Linked DNA regions of Homo sapiens. The protein of the gene in region 2 purifies or fractionates together with the protein of the main gene of each other region. This does not show direct contact. Each region holds a gene or a part of one and is shown on either strand. Other genes may lie near its edges.

The links.
Region 1: the proteins of CLEC4E (region 2) and AIF1L purify together in Homo sapiens (affinity purification with mass spectrometry, with the first as the bait; one large-scale study listed by BioGRID). This does not show direct contact.
Region 3: the proteins of CLEC4E (region 2) and SAFB purify together in Homo sapiens (affinity purification with mass spectrometry, with the first as the bait; one large-scale study listed by BioGRID). This does not show direct contact.
Region 4: the proteins of CLEC4E (region 2) and TMEM59 purify together in Homo sapiens (affinity purification with mass spectrometry, with the first as the bait; one large-scale study listed by BioGRID). This does not show direct contact.

What each region holds. Positions count from the first base shown.
Region 1 is NC_000009.12:131,095,295-131,099,330, forward strand, and holds the start of AIF1L (allograft inflammatory factor 1-like), read left to right. Parts: upstream 1-1,236; 5' UTR 1,237-1,335; coding exon 1,336-1,366; intron 1,367-1,485; exon of another isoform or gene 1,486-1,507; coding exon 1,508-1,569; intron 1,570-4,036. UniProt on the Homo sapiens protein: Actin-binding protein that promotes actin bundling. May neither bind calcium nor depend on calcium for function.
Region 2 is NC_000012.12:8,537,498-8,542,865, forward strand, and holds the start of CLEC4E (C-type lectin domain family 4 member E), read right to left. Parts: upstream 3,409-5,368; 5' UTR 3,301-3,408; coding exon 3,264-3,300; intron 2,451-3,263; coding exon 2,358-2,450; intron 1,810-2,357; coding exon 1,720-1,809; coding exon of another isoform or gene 1,703-1,719; intron 1-1,702.
Region 3 is NC_000019.10:5,664,583-5,668,082, reverse strand, and holds part of SAFB (scaffold attachment factor B1), read right to left. Parts: intron 1,038-3,500; coding exon 919-1,037; intron 737-918; coding exon 633-736; intron 264-632; coding exon 197-263; intron 1-196. UniProt on the Homo sapiens protein: Binds to scaffold/matrix attachment region (S/MAR) DNA and forms a molecular assembly point to allow the formation of a 'transcriptosomal' complex (consisting of SR proteins and RNA polymerase II) coupling transcription and RNA processing.
Region 4 is NC_000001.11:54,029,205-54,032,704, forward strand, and holds part of TMEM59 (transmembrane protein 59 isoform 2 precursor), read right to left. Parts: intron 3,102-3,500; coding exon 2,946-3,101; 3' UTR 1-2,945.

The sequences.
Region 1 (4,036 bases), on a different chromosome or scaffold from region 2:
ACTGCTGCCCTGACCTCAGCCCCATCCCATTCTGCCTAGCCCCTTGCTGGGCACTTCCCTCCCCAGGGACAGCCACAGAAAAATGATGATCTCGGCTGGGCGTGGTGGCTCACGCCTGTAATCCCAGCACTTTGGGAGGCCGAGGCAGGTGGATCACCTTAGGTCAGGAGTTCGAGACAAACCTTGCCAACATGATGAAACCCCGTCTCTACTAAAAATACAAACATTAGCTGGGCGTGGTGGTGTGTGCCTGTAGTCCCGGCTACTTGGGAGGCTGAGGCAGGAGAATCACTTGAACCCGGAGGCGAAGGTTGCAGTGAGCCGAGATCAAGCCGCTGCACTCCAGCTCTGGGCAACAGAGCAAGACTCTGCCTCGAAAAAAATAAATAAATAAGAAAGATGATCTCAGGGTCCCTACCCTAGGAGTCAGATGCACGGTGGGGCCATTCCTAGCGCTGCCTGCCCTGGACAGCGCCTGTCTATGCCTGTGGCCCAGCATCATTATGAGGAGTGCTCCCTTGACTCTGGCTGTCCTGATTTGGACACTAGACTTCATGGTCACCCTGGCCACAGGTACCCTATCCTGCATCCTGAGCTCCGCTCTTCCTGGAGTCATGGGCTGGTCTTTCCTCCTGGTGGCCTTGCGCCCCAGCTCCAGCTTCCTGACTTTTCTCTTCTGGAAATGGGAATGCCAAGTCCTATTTCATGGAGTTTTGAGAATGAAATGACTGGTGTACGGTGCAAAGTGCCTGTGAGTGCCCAAGAAATCTCTTTTATTAACAAGACACGAATTCATTCCAATTGATTTGACGGGCCACTGTTGTCACAGCAGCCGCACTGCCCCAAAGGCAGCAGTGATGTTTGAGCGCCGACTCCCCGACGGCACTTGGTCCTCACAACCACCCCATGGAGTTCATGCTAAGATCCTCGCATTTCATTTGTGTGGCAGGGACTTGCTGAGGTCCGGGGAGGGGCAGAGAGGAGGGGTGCGGCCGCCCCGCGCTTTGCACTTTCCGCGTCCTCCAGCAGAGGGGTCGGCCGGCGGGCTCAGCGTCCCGCATAATAGCCGCTTTGAAGCCCGCGGAGCGGGTGGCGGGAGGGGAGGGGAGAGGCGGGAGGGGAGGGGAGAGGCGGGAGGGGAGGGGCGAGGCGGGAGGGAGGGAGGGAGGGGCCGGCAGCGGAGGGAGGGGTGTGTCGGCCGCCCGCGCCGTTCCTCCGCCCCTCGGTCCCGCGGCCACACGCAGCTAGCCGGAGCCCGGACCAGGCGCCTGTGCCTCCTCCTCGTCCCTCGCCGCGTCCGCGAAGCCTGGAGCCGGCGGGAGCCCCGCGCTCGCCATGTCGGGCGAGCTCAGCAACAGGTTCCAAGGTAGGCGCCGCCGTCCCCGAGCAGCCACCTGTGCGCGCCGGGCGGACCGCGGGGTCCACCGCGCGCGGGAAGCGGGCGGGGACGGGGGCGCGTGGCCCGAAGAGGACCCCGCTTCCCAGGCCGCCTCTTTGTCTCCTCCAGGAGGGAAGGCGTTCGGCTTGCTCAAAGCCCGGCAGGAGAGGAGGCTGGCCGAGATCAACCGGGTAAGCCCCGCGCCCAGGGCAGCACGCGAGTCCCGAGCCGCGCGCTGCGCGGGTGCCACCTCTCCTTCCGCGAGGCCGTGCCCGCCTCCAGATCTACCCTCTTCCTTCCCTTCCCCTGGGCTTCCCTCAGGTGCCTCCCTCCGCCCCCAGCCCCGTCGCCTCCGACTCCAGGTAGGTCCGCCTCCGCCTCCCGCCTCCGGTCTCGGGTTGCAAGTTGTTACTCTTGCAACTGGGGACTGGGGAGGTGGGGCCGGGTCAGGAGCTCGGATGCCAGCCGGCTCGTGGCTCCCCGCAAGCCCGCTTGGGAGCAGCCCAAGGATTTGGCGCGGGAAGGGCCCTAGGCCAGTGATCTCTCCAGCTCAGAACACAGGCTCCGGGTCATTTGCTGGTCTGTCGCCCAGGCTGGAGTTCGGTGGCCCAATCTCAGCTCATTGCAGCCTCCACCTTTGGGATTCAAACGGTCCTCCCTCCTCATCCTCCCGAGTAGCTGGGACTACAGGCATGTGCCCCCACGCCTGGCCTTAGCTATTGTTGTTATAAGGGATTCAAAAGTACAAATAGAAGACTCTGATGGGCGTAGAGATCCTGGCACTTCCCCGTGGTCTCCAGCCTCCCGCCTCCCTCAAACACACCACTCCTCTTCACTCCAACTTTCAGGAAAGATTGCCTTAAGGGATTCAATGCTTTTCTTGCTGGTCCTGGTGGATTTCTCAAAAGAAATCTTTCCTGTTGTTGCCAGGCATCCAGTGAGAGCTCCATAAATTTACATAGATTCTAGAAGATAAGGAAAGATATCAGGACCTGTCTGGGTTGGCCAAAGCTCAAAGGCAGCACAGCCAGTGGCTTTAAAGTTCTGCAAGACCTGGGCTCAGATCTGGCCTCCACTGTGTGCCAGCTCTGTGGTCCTCAGCAAAGGGCCTCTCATCTCCAAGCAGGGCATTGTGCAGGCTCAGAGAGGGAAGGCCCGTGGCCTGCATGGCCCAGCACCCAGCATTCAGGAAGCACTCACAGAACTAGCATTATTTCCTGAGGTGGATGTCTCCCAGTTTCCTTCTTAACTGGTGGCAGAGGCACGCCCGCTGAAACAAGGCTTGGCATTCCCCCTGCAGGCTCCTCTGGTCCCCTGGACACCCAGGGTCTAAGCCCAGCTGACAGTCTGGAAGTGGGCCGCTGGTGAGGTCAGCAGAGCCCGAGAAGGCTGTGGGAGGCGGGTCCGAGCCTGGGGCCAGGTTGTGGTATTGCCTCTTGCCAGCAGTGTGCAGCCTTGATTCCCCCTTGGTTTTCTTGGACTGCTTGGATGTAGGCAGCCTGTCTGTTTTCCATCCGCTGGCTACAGGACTCCCATTCGGTCCCCAGCTACAGGGCTCTGGGGACCTCAGGGTTCCCCCTCCAGGTAAGCTCCGGCCTCCTCACCGCCACCCTCACCCTGCTTCCTGGGGGCATCTTGAGCACAACTGGAAGGTTGCCCGGACATCTGGCTGGGGTGCTCAGGGGTCTCGGATCCCTGCTGGGCTCCTTCCCAGATCACTGTGTGCCTGCCCAGCCTGGGGCTTGGCTGCTCTAGCCCTCTGGACAGAAGGCTGGAACCCCGACCTCATATAGCCCCCTGGGTCACTTGGCCAGGCGGGTTCTGAGCTGGCTGGAGCCACCCACAGCCAGCGGGACCCTGAGCCACAGACAGCTGGAGATGGGGGTGAGGTGACCATGGTTGGACAAGCCAGAAGAGCTAAGAGGGCGGGGCCAACCTAGCCCTTGGGGAGGTGGGTTGGGGGAGGGGGCGGCTCCAGGGTTGTTTTGGGAAACCGACTAGCTTGGCTTAGAAAGAGGAGGGACTTTAACAGCTGTCAGGGGCTGATCTGGGCAGCACTGGGACTAGGGAAAGTGAGCAGGAAGGAGCTGTGGTCTAACCACCTCAGGACAGCGCCCAGAGAGGGCAAGCAGCTGACCCAAGGCCACGCAGAAGCCAGTGACAGAGCTTGCAGCCCAGCGTCCTTCCCCTGCCAAGACGCTGTACTGAGACCCACCATGACAGCCCAGCCGCTGTAGGGCTGCTGAGGCCCAGGATCTGGGGCCCTGTAGGAAGGAGGCGCCAGGATCACACGGGAAGCTTGAGCTGCTTCACCACAGTGGAGCAGGGTGGCCCCACCAGTTTAGTCATGAGGTACCCACAAGCACTGATCTGTGACTCTGGGCAAGCCACTCACCTCTCTGAGCCTCCTTCTCCAAAAAGATAATGGTTGTGATTTTTTCAGTGAGACAATCTATGTAAAGCACCCAGGAGAGCTGGCTGCGGCCCTGATAGCTATCAGGACAGTTTCTTTGTTCGTGGCCTCAAGGTGCAGGGAGTGGAAGATACTCCGCCCTGGCTCATGCTGGTTGCTCAGCCCAGCAGAACCTCGTCTTCCCCAGCCTGAAATGGGAGCAGGGATCTCTGCCCCTCTGGAGTCCCTGCAACAATTAACCGATG
Region 2 (5,368 bases):
TGCAACTATATATGCAAACTATCTTAGTTATGCTATTGATATAGAACCTTATTATCTGTTCTTAGACTACTAATGTCAGAGAAATTTATGCATTTTATTTGGGTGACCCCCAAAGAGCCATCTCTTATGTTACCTAAACAATGTATCCTCAATCAAATCTCCATACTGTAGTATATAGATGGGTTAGATGTGGGCGGCAAGCCACCCAGGCGCTGAGGCAAGAGACAGAGGACACGAGCTGTTCCAGTATAATAAAATATAAAACAAGAATAGTTATACCAGATATAGATCTTAGATATGATTATATATGAATATCATTAATCATTAGTTTGTAGCAATTACTTTTTATTCCAATATTATAATAATCCTCGCTCTATAATCATAGCCAAGGAAAAACCAGGCCGTACAGAGCTACGAGCTGAGGGGACATAGTGAGGTGTGACCAGAAGACAAGAGTGCGAGCCTTCCGTTATGCCCGGACAGGGCCACCAGAGGGCTCCTTGGTCTAGCGGTGACGCCAGCGTCTGGGAAGACGCCCGTGGCCAGGCAGACAGACTGTGGTCTAGCGGTAGCGTTAAGTGTCAAGGGAAAACACCCGCTACTTAGCAGACAGGAAAAGGGAGTCTTCCTTTCCCTGGGGGAGTTTAGAGAAGACTCTGCTCCTCCACCTCTTGTGGAGGGCCTGACATTAGTCAGGCTTGCCCGCAGTTATCCGGAGGCCTAACCGTCTCCCTGTGATGCTGTGCTTCAGTGGTCACACTCCTAGTCTGCCTTCATGTTCCATCCTGTACACCTGGCTCTGCCTTCTAGATAGCAGTAGTAAATTAGCGAAAGTACTAATAGTCCCTGATATGCAGAAATAATAGCGTAAGCTGTCTTTCTCTCTGTCTCCTCTCCCTCTCTGCCTCGGCTGCCAGGCAGGGAAGGTCCCCCTGTCCAGTGGACACGTGACCCACATGACCTTACCTATCATTGGAGATGACTCACACTCTCTACCCTGCCCCTTTCACCTTGTATCCAATAAATAACAGCGCAGCCAGACATTCGGAGCCACTACCGGTCTCCGCGCATTGGTGGTAGTGGTCCCTTGGGCCCAGCTGCCTTTTCTTTTATCTCTTTGTCTTGTGTCTTTATTTCTACATGCTCTCGTCTCTGGACACAGGGAGAGACCCACCAACCCTGTGGGGCTGGTCCCTACAGTTAGATTTCTTAGAATTACAGAACTTTTGCCTTTGAGGTCTATTATAAATAATTCTTCTAACTTCTCTCAATTTAATGGTGAGAAAATTATAGCTCAGAGAAGGAAGTCACTTTTTTAGTGTCATGTAGCATTTTGCTAGGACTTGCAACAGGATGACATAGAAGAGCATAGAGAGTATATTTGTGAGATATTTATAAATTCTCTACTCCATACGTTTTTTCTCCATCTCATTTTGGAAGTAGGTGAATGAAAAAAAAGGTACACTCCTGGGAATAATACCTTCCACTTCCAGATTTACTGTTCAGACATACCCCTCAAATTTATTCTAAAAGTTTACTATAATGTCCCCAAGACTTTCTGCCCCAATGCTAATTGCATCACCAAATTTCTAGGATTTTACATTTTGCTTTTGAAAAATAAGACCTAATCCAGCTATATCTCACCTGTCCCAAAGTCAATCTAGAAGCCAGAAAATGTTGCTTTGTAAATTTTGATGTTCACCTTTGGGACTATTATACCTGATCCATAATTGTAGCAGGAGAGCTCTGTGAAATTCTCAGGTAGCTGAAACTTTTTCTCATCACAGGTTTGAAAGATGCGAAATGTCACTGTAAAAGAAAGGGCATAATGTTTGTTAGTCTTATTTCGGTTAAAAATGTCAGTTCCCTCAGTTTTGTATTTATAACAAAAGTGCCAATAATTATCATGTTTTTTCTTACAATCTGCTTTTTCTTACGACCCAGAGAAAATAGATATGTTTGCACTACCTCTTATGCCAAGTCCAACTCTCTCTACCCTTCCTTCCAAAAGTAATTAGTCATATCTCTGGTGCCGACCAGTAGTTCAAGCTCTAAGGCAGACTCTCCTAGAGAAGGTTACACTAATGATAGAGGCTGAAAGAGGAGGATTCAGGACTGCCAAGGAAGTGAAAAATGTCTATCATGAAAAGTAAGTCACAGGTGATTAAAATTCAGAAACAGTTCCCTGCTTGTTGAGGTTTCTGGTTTGAGAAATAACCTAGAGATTAATAGGGAAAAAAAAAAGGGTGAAATAGAAAGACCCTTTGAGGGCAAAGAGAGTCTACAGGCAGCATGGAAGAGTTTTCTCCTAATATGCACCAGGAAGAATTAAATTGAATTTGACCTTCAGAACCCACCAACACATCTGGTGATGAAACAGGCACTGAGAAATAGGATGGGGATCCCAGCAACAGTCCATAAGAACATTTGGGAAGAGAAGCATCCTCTCTCTGTAGAAAGAAAGACACAAACATGATCAATCTTCCCTAAGCAAGGTACAAAAGAGATAGAAGAGATTCTTATTCATCCTTACTTATTTCCTTCTACTTCCATTGTTTGTACTGAGTAATTCCCAAATTTCAGCATGCTTCAGAATCACTTGGAGGGTTTATGGAAACACAGATTGCTGACCCTTACCCCCAGAGTTAGCAACTCAGTAGAGTTTGTATGGAACCAACAAGTTCCCAGGGGCTACTGCTGCTGCTGGTCTGAGGACCACACGTTTAGCACCCCTGGAGTAAGACTCTGACTCATGAACTCAGATATACAATTTTTCCTTTCTAAGTCTCTCAGTTAAATTTTTTTCAGTATTTTCTAAGGCCCCCCTTCTTTCTTTTTCTTTCTTTTCCCTTTTCTCGTCTTTGCTTTTCTTGTCCTTCTCCTGATCTTTTTTTTTTTTCTGTGTCTCACTTTTCAAGCGCTTTGTAAATTAGGTAAAATGTTAACAGTCATCTAATAGTTCCTCTCTTCCTCCCATTAAACATTTTACAGACAAAGAGAGTTCCAGAGAAGTGAAGTGACTTGCCAAAAGGGACACAATGTATTGCAGAAAGGGTGGAAACTGATAGCTCTCCCTTAGCTAGAGGCCAGCAGGCTTTCTGGTATAAGAAATAGTCTTTAAATCTCTCTCTCTCTCTTCCTCTGTCCCCCCACTTTTTTTTTTAACTTCAGTGAATACTTTTCTATTGTCCTGTCTTTCACCATATTTATCACTTGTTCCAAAAAGAGATCTATGGAAGGAAAGGAAGAGTTGCAGATTTTACCTGTGCATTGTGTTTCAGATGATTTAGATGAATTCATTTTTTCTCTCTCTTTGGTTTTTTGTTTCTCTCTCTCTCTTTTTCTCTCCCTCCCTCTCTTTCTTTCTCCTCAGGAGTGTTTTGTTGGTAAGATTCAGGGAGAATGAATCTTGAAAGATAAACACTTTGTCTTTTAGGAAGTTCAGCTCCGATAGATGTAGAATATTAACTTGTTCTGTGGCTACGCATTAAGTCAGGATTTCCTTTCTTGCATAAGGAGGACAAGGAAGTTTATTGGACAGCATGTCAGTTCTCTTCACTCCATGTAACAACAAAATGAGGAAATTATGAAATGGTAAGCATCAACACAAATAGGCTAGCCATGGGGAAACAGGAGAGTTTTTTTTTTAAATGTTGTTTCGTTTCGTTGGACCAAATGTCTCTAGTTTCTTCAAGGCATAACTCATCCCCCAGTTTTTCCTTGACAATATGGAGCTCACCTCTGCACTCTGAATTTCACTTTGGATCTGTACCATCCACACATTTGGTAACTGAAAAGAAGACTTAGACAACATAGCACAAAGCTGGGCATATAGTGTATGTATTTAGGACATGGCAACCTGAATTTTTTCATCTTTTTTTTTTTTTTTTTTTTTGAGACAGAGTCTCGCTCTGTCGTCCAGGCTGGAGTGCAGTGGCATGATCTCCGCTCACTGCAAGCTCCGCCTCCCGGGTTCAAGCCATTCTCCTGCCTCAGCCTCCCGAGTAGCTGGGACTACAGGCGCTCGCCACCACGCCTGGCTAATTTTTTGTATTTTTAGCAGAGACGGGGTTTCACTGTGGTCGTCAGGATGGTTTCAATTTCCTGACCTCGTGATCCGCCCGCCTCAGCCTCCCAAAGTCCTGAGATTACAGGCGTGAGCCACCGCGCCCGTCCTCTTTTTCATCTTTTATGGTTTTTCTTTCTTCTTCATTTGCAGCTCTTGAATATTCTAATGTTGTGGATTTATGTCCCTCTTATCTTATGCTGACTACTAGGCTGCTACTACTAGGCTGACTACTAGAGTCCCCCTCAGCAGGACAGCCTCATGTGATTAGACCACTTTGAAACTCAGCTTAGTTTTTCACAACATAACGCAGCTTCTGAAGTCTCAGAGACCCAGCAGGCAGTTTAATTCTCCTGTTCTCAATTATTTGGGGATTTTAGTTCTATGTTACAGCCTACAGTAGGAGAAATGTATTTGAAGGTCAGAAAAAGCAATTTCAATTAGATATTAGAATTTAATGGTTCTCTGGGCCGGGAGCAGTGGCTCATGCCTGTAATTCCAACACTTTGGGAGGCCAAGGTGGGTGGATCATTTGAGGTCAGGAGTTTGAGACCAGCCTGGCCAACATGGTGAAACCCCACCTCTACTAAAAATACAAAAATTAGCCAAGTGTGGTGGCACGCATCTGTAATTCCAGATACTTGAGAGGCTGAGACAGGAGAATAGCTTGATCCTGGGAGGCAGAGGTTGCAGTGAGCCAAAATTGCACCACTGCACTCCAGCCTGGGCGATAGAGTGAGACTCTGTCTCAAAAAAAAAAAAAAAAAAGAATTAATGCTTCTCTGGAAGAATAGTTAGATATGTGCCTTCTCCTTACTTAAAGATACTTAAGAATAAGATCACACTGGTCTCAGTTTATTTAAGTTCACGAGTCAGGAGGCATAAGTATGATGTACATGACTTGGTAAATCCCCACATCCAGTGACTCACGAATTTTCCATGTGTGAGAAAATATTCTTGTTCTCAAAGGGACTTTTTATTATTTCAAGGTACTGGTCAATTTTCTCTGCATTCTCTGTTTTATAGTAATACAATTTTAAAAATATCTTTAAATTATATATGTGTATATTATAGAATATACCCATATTTAATATGTGTATTCTCAGCAAATAGCTTTTGATCAGTAAAAAAAGAGAAACTATCTAGTGGATGAGCTATATGAATTATAAAATGATGAACATAATTACCACAGTCCATCTTTTATTAATTACAATCAACCAGCAACCATCAATATTACTAAACAATTGTATGTTAATTTTTATCAATATACAATTAAACAGAAATCAATAAATTAATATTTTT
Region 3 (3,500 bases), on a different chromosome or scaffold from region 2:
TGTTGCCTGCAGGCAGGGCCCCTTCCTAATGCCCTCCCCTCCTGAGTGGCAGCAGCCTCCACAGTACCCCATGCCTGGCCTCACGTCACCCTTGGGGGGAGGGGCACTAGCTGGAAGGACTTGGTTGTTAAGCCTCCAGCAAGGTAGGCCAATATGCAAAGCAGGGGGAAGGGGCGCCGCCCCCAGCATGCCTTACCCTGACATTCCTCCTCGGTTCATCATGTGGCCAGGCCCGGAGTGACCGGACATGCTTCTCTCGCCACCTGGAAGACAGACGTGCTTTCACACAGGGAACTTGCGCACACGGCGTGGAACCCACGGCACATTTAGCCCACTCCACTCCCTTTGGTGAGGCCCCCAGGTACCCACAACTAGCGGGTCCCAGGAAGACACCTGGGCACAGGGACCATAGACGTCCAGCTTCCTCCCAGCAGAGAGAACTCGGGAACGCCCACTGTCCAACTCCTGGGCCAGACCACCAGAGAGCAGGCGGTGTCTGGAGTGCTCTTCATTCCTCATTCCAGCACTGAGAGCAGAGCACCTCCTGTGCTCCCCCAAGGAGAGAAGGCGCGGCCTCCATCTTTCCATCACTCCCCAGCACATCCTGGTCCCAGCCCAGAGCTGCTCCTCACCTTGCCACCTCTTGTGATCCCTGTCCATCATGCCCCCGTCGGCCGTGCCCTGCCATGACCGGTCATCCTCTCTTCGGCCATGGTCCCCCCAGTCACGTCTGCCCCTTGAAAGAGAGACATCTCTGATTTGGATTGCCCCCATCTCTGGCTCTTGTGCTAATAACTGTGGCGGCTTCTGGAGAGTGAATCCCTCTGTGTTTCCCACCCTGTGCCCACATCCCAGCGACTTGCGGGCCCCCTTGTGGGCGGGGGGGGGGTCAGGTACTGTCGGGTGTGGGACACAAACCTGGGGGGAGGAGGCAGCCCCCGGCCCTCGCTCATCCTCTTGTCAGAGCCATAGCCCCCCCAGCCATCGCGGGAGTCCCGGCCGTGGCGCTCTGGTCCTCCATGGCGTTCTGGGTAATGCTGGACATCACAGAGCCAGAAGGGAAAAAAAAGCTTCAGTGTCAGCGCCCAGACCCCAAGGCTTTTCAGGCAACATGCTAACGATGACAACGACAGTCACTCGGGACAGAAGTGCTGGCAGGCTGTATCGGTTCACACAACACAGCTGCCTTCCTGAAATCTGCAGGCCAGAGGCCCTGTGCCCTAGGCTCATGGCCTGGTACAAAAAAGGTACTAGTACCAAGGCATCTCCAAGGCAGGTCCCCACAGCACCACCAGAGCTGGGAGGGCCACCAGGAGTCACCCACTAAAGATGATGCTTACAAGAGAGATTCCCTGGGTCCCACAGCTCAAATGGTTAGTTCCCAGAGCCAACAGTATTCTCTTACTGTCTTCTACTAAAGAAAGGTCAGGTTTATAAACCTTTAATGTGTGCATATTCTGGAAATAATTTTTACAAATTTCTTCCTTCCACAGTGAAGGAAGTATCAAATGGAGCCCTTCATCCGACCAATTGCTAGGCAAGCATCCTTCCTCACAGTCAAGTTTCTCGGAAGTTTCTGCTGGATGCCCAGTCCAGGGTCTTGCACCTTGCTCTGCTCAGGATATAAGACACAGGACACTGAGAGATAAACGGCTGGCCTTCCACTTGGCTAGTCCCACCTTTCCCTCTTCTGTGTCATTGTTTTTGTAAGCCACGTGGCTAACACAGACCAGGAGTTCTTGACCCTGCTGTTTCAGGGAAGACCAAGAGAGGGCGAGTCACACTCTATGCCTACTTATTTGATGGCCAAGGTTAATATTTACACCCACAGCCTATTTCTGTGGCTGGAAGCACTTTCCAGCCTGACTTTCACAAAAGCTAGTGAGGTAGCTTTGGCTCCACAGTCCTGTTTTTTCTCTTTCCACCAATACATATGTGGTCTCTGGGGTTTTTGCCCCATGACCACATTGTAGGTGAAAGGAAACTAGAAAGGAGTCCTGGTAAGGAAACCCCCTTGACACAGGCTGGTTGTTGTCCATGTCCAAGTTCACCTCCCCGTTCAACGGAGAGCTCTGCCAGGGTGAAGGGAGAGATGGCGGCATGCTCCACCACGTGCACGATGTCCCACGTTACCACTGCCTGCTTCCTGGCCTATCCTCCCAGCATGTGCTCTGATGCCTCCCCTCAACAAAGTAAGAAAAGGGACTCCTGAAATAAGCTCTCCTTAGTATTTGAAAATTGAACCAACATTTTTCTGTCCAACCAACCCACGTAACTGTTCAATGAGGCCCATAAGTTCTGTGCTAGTTTTCTCTGTAGGGAGATGTTACCATTTCCCTTTGGGGTAACTCTGACGACTCATTTATGACTGTGTATGTGAGGAGAAGGGATCAAACCGCGTTCCACTGTTAGGAGAGCATATCTAACACCTTCATGAAAGCAGCTGGTGGCCAGGTGTGCTGGCTCACATCTGTAATCCTAGCACTTTGGGAGGCCGAGGTAGGAGGATCACTTGAGCTCAGGAGTTCAAAACTGGCCTGGGCAACATAGTGAGATCCCGTCTCTATTAAAAAAAAAAAAAAGTAGCTGGCAATGATAAACACGTTTGTACAGATGCGCCCACCTCATGTAAACCCCCACCACCGCACCCTTTGTAGGAGGAATATTACCCTCATTTCACTCCTGGGGAGACAGGCTCAGCAGGAAGGGGTGACACCAAGGTGTGACGCCAGTTCTGATTCTGGAGCCTTTACATGGAACCATTGGTGTATGCTCCTCCACCAAAGAAAATCCACAAGACTAGTTCTACGTTTTGCTGCATATAATTTGCCTCCAGGAGCAGGGAAAAAGGAACCCCACGAGGCTGATGGAATTCCTGAGGATCCCGAGACAGAGCTGAGTACTTGGCTATGCTCAGCCACATTAAGGAACCAAGGGGGACAGAAGCGGGAAGCTTATGGTGGAGTCCAGAAAATGCTGGCAGGAGGAGGAAGGGCTCATGAGTGGAGTCCTCAGAGAGGAGGCATCTTCCACACAGCAATGTGCTGCCCCCAAGTTTATAGGGAAAGCCACTAGAGGTCCAAGGCTCTCCTGGGAAGTCTCAGTCTCAATGTAAGATGGAAGGAGAAAATGGAGCTTATTGTTCTAATGTGCTAGCCCCCGAAGAGAATGAGCACAGACCACAGATCTAGTTGTTTTCCAAGGCTAAGCTGGGCCCTGGGGTGATGAAGGATGTCCTTACTTTCAAAAGAGGGCAGGCACTCGAGGACAGACACAGCAACCACAGCCTCCCCAGATGCACCTGTCTGAGTCAGCTGTGCGGCTCACTAGACACTTCCCAGCAGAGCCAGGTCACATCCCAAGGTTCCCTGGCACTGTTGCACATGTGTGGTGAGTGTGGCACACAGAACCCCAGGGTCAAGGCTAAAAACAGCTTCAGAGTAACTGTTTGGACTGACAGCCAAGACTAACCCCAAATAATCCCAAATTTCCATTCCACA
Region 4 (3,500 bases), on a different chromosome or scaffold from region 2:
GATAAGATTGACCAGATCATCTAGTAATTTCTGATTTACTACAAAACATATCACAAATGAAAGGTGCCCATGAAGTTTTGTGAGAAAACTTGGAACCTAGGCCCAGATCATTCATTATGGTGATTAGTACTGCTTTTGTAATTGCCTGAATTAGCATGTCTCTTAGATGAGGGACCTGAGCCAAGAAAGACCTTAGAAGTCTGGGAGGTTTGAACCAGAGACCCAACGGTCTTGAGAATTTGCCTAGGACCAAGACCAGATTCTCAAGATGCTTTCTGTGTGGTAGGAAATAAGATTATGACTGTTTTATGGAAACAAGGAGCTAAGTAAAGTTAGGCACATCCAAGAAGGGCAAAACTGTTACTTTAGGAGAAGGGGCTTGGAAGCTCAGTTTTGTTGCTTTGGTTGGGATTTTCAAGATCGGAAACATTTTTATGCTGTATATATTTTGGGGATTTTTTTTCAAAAGTAAAATATTTCTTCTCAAAAGTAGATTCTGTGCTTCAGAATTTAATTACCACAAGGAGTCAGAAAATCAACACTACAATCCAGCTTCCCAAACAGAAGACTATATTTCCCATTATCTCAATCTTTATCACTGTACGTACCCTGACCCTAGACTCTAGTGTAGAACAAGTAGTTAAGGGAAGAGAGATTAAAATGGTTACTCATGCTGATGATACTCAAATGCAAACATCAGTCTGGCTTAATTATGCTAAAAAAGAGGAGACAAATATTTGAGTGCCTGCTAAATATCAAGAATGTCTTGGTATTTTCACATATAAGGAATTCTCTCAACAAGAGGGGAGATATTTGTCTAAACTTGGATCAATACTTTCAAGAGAAATGAAGGTATCTCAGGCACTTCTCATTCAGGAAGCGAAGAGAAATGAAACCAAGGGAAGGTGGAGAATATAGGACAACTGTACAGTTGCTTTAAAAAAAAAAAAAAAGATGGGATTCTCATTATATTGCCCAGGATGGTGTTGAACTCCTGGCCCCAAGTGATCTAGATAATTCTTTGTTTTGTTTTTATAAGGGAGGGTCTTTTCTAACAGTGGGCTCTTTGATTCCTGTGAGACAGCAGCATTTTGTGTTTCTCTGTTTGCTTCATTGGATGCATTACAATTAAACCTGTGCCTGACTAAGGAAACTAAGTATGCACTAATGATGGGAGACGAAACAACAGGGCTTTTTATTTTTTTTTAATGGTAACTCCTATCCACTACCCATGTTTTATATAGTCCCCATGTTTGTTTGTATTTTTTTGTACAGAGAGGGTCTTGCTATGTTGCCCAGGTTGGTCTCGAACTCCTGACCTCAAGTGATCCTCCTGCTTTGGCCTCCCAAAGTGCTGGGATTACAGGCGTGAGCCACTGTGCCTGGCTGAGTCCCCACGTTTTATCCCATGTTTTCTAACAAAAAGAAGAAAGAAACAATGACTGCTTGACAATGACGGCTAATTCCTCCTTTCTTCCCCATCTGGATGTGTTCACAACTTTCTATCATCCAAATCTAGACAAACTAAAAATAAAAACCTACACTTTGTGACCAAAGTCTTCCTTGATTAGCTGTTAACTGCTTTTCATTTGGACTCAGGAAGGCTAAAGACTAGGCCATAGGAGGAGTGACTAACTTATTCTTTAGTCAAACAGCACTGATGCAGTTGTCAGCAATGCCCCTGTGACTGAGGAAAGTATTGTTTTACAAAGTTTTTAATATTTTATGGCATAATAACAGTGAATCATATTAGAATTCTGGTGTAGGCTGGGCACAGTCACTCACGCCTGTAATCCCAGCACTTTGGAAGGCCTAAGTGGGTGGATCACCTGAGGTCAGGAGTTCGAGACCAGCCTGGCCAACCTGGTGAAACCCCGTCTCTACTAAAAATACAAAATTATCCAGGTGTGGTGGCGCATGCCTGTAATCCCAGCTACTCGGGAGGCTGAGGCAGGAGAATCGCTTGAACCTCAGAGGTGGAGGTTGTAGTGAGCCAAGATCATACCATTGCACTCCAGCCTCAGCAACAAGAGCAAAATTCCATCTCAAAAGATTCTGGTGTATTATTATTATGACCTGATATCATTCTAATATTAAGCTCTGTATTATTGCAGGTAAAAATAAAACGAGTTTTTGCCAAGTAAAATTTATACTTAATTCTGTATCACAAGAGTCTAATTTTTAGTGTTAAAATGAAGTTTTCTCTGAAAATATGTTTACCTTATACTTGATATGCTATCTAACAGAGAAAAATAGTTCTTTGGAAACACTCATCAAACAAAAACCTATAGCCTGTGCAAAATAACATCAAATGTACTGCTGAGAGATCAGTTTTGCATCAAAATGGTCCCTGACCATCACATTATAAAGCAATAGCAATAAACACAGAACATTTCATAATTCTTATCTAGGTTGGGCAGGAATAGGAGGGAAGGTCTAGAAAAATCAGATACTCAAATTTCAGCACATAATTATTCAAATAAAATTTTAATGATTTCAGTTCCTGAAAATGTAGTGTCATTAAAGGTCATTTCCTGCTAAATTTCAAATTACAGATTTGTGGGCCATTCCTGAGCAGAAGCATCATTTCTACTAAATATTCAGCTTGTTAACTAAGGTAACTGACAGTATCATGGCAGGAGGTGAGAAGGAGCAATGATCAGCTCATAGCTAAGAAAAGGGAAAAAAACAATAACCAAAGCAAAAAACAAAATAGCTACAGATATTAGTAAAATAATAATACAATCCCAAACATCCACCTCTTAAATTACTACAAAAACAATACCAATAAAGTTATAGCAAATACAGTCTTCACAGATTTGAGTAACTTTATTTGCATTTTATAGTGATTTCTTAAGGCCTATATCCAATGAAACCATTTTAAAAGCTCTATGAGGAGTGGAATTTTAGATGTCTATTACACTTGTCTTTTAAAAGAAAAATGCTTAAATTTCAGAATGAGCAAGATTCACTTTTGTAGGTAGAGGCCCTGCTTCTTCATGATCTTCAGTTTTAGATCTAACAACCACAAGAGAAGAAGCTGGATATCTGTTTAGCTTTTGTTCATTCATAAACTCCAAGTCACCATAGATACTCAGCTTCTGCAAAAGAAAACCAATGTACATTAGTAGTCTGGATAATTAGGAACCTCTCCAAGTTAGTCTTTAAATAACAATTTAATTTATAAATAGTTGGTAAAAAAAATTCTATAAACAACTTTAAGAAAGAAGAATACTTTTTCTCAAAGTGTTGTAGATATGTGATTCAGCTCCCAATGGATGGCCAAAGAAAGCTGTTCCACGTCTCAAGTTAAAATCCTCAGGAGTATAACAATTGGGTATCAAGAAAAACAGCTATGGATGCCTTAAGTGATCAAGTCCTTCAACATCTTAGCTCTCCTACCAAGTGGTAAAATAATTTGGTGCAAGTTTTTCTGCTCCTAAATGTTTTAGCTTAACATGTATGGAAAATGATAGATGCTATTTGAAAAGGCTGCGAGA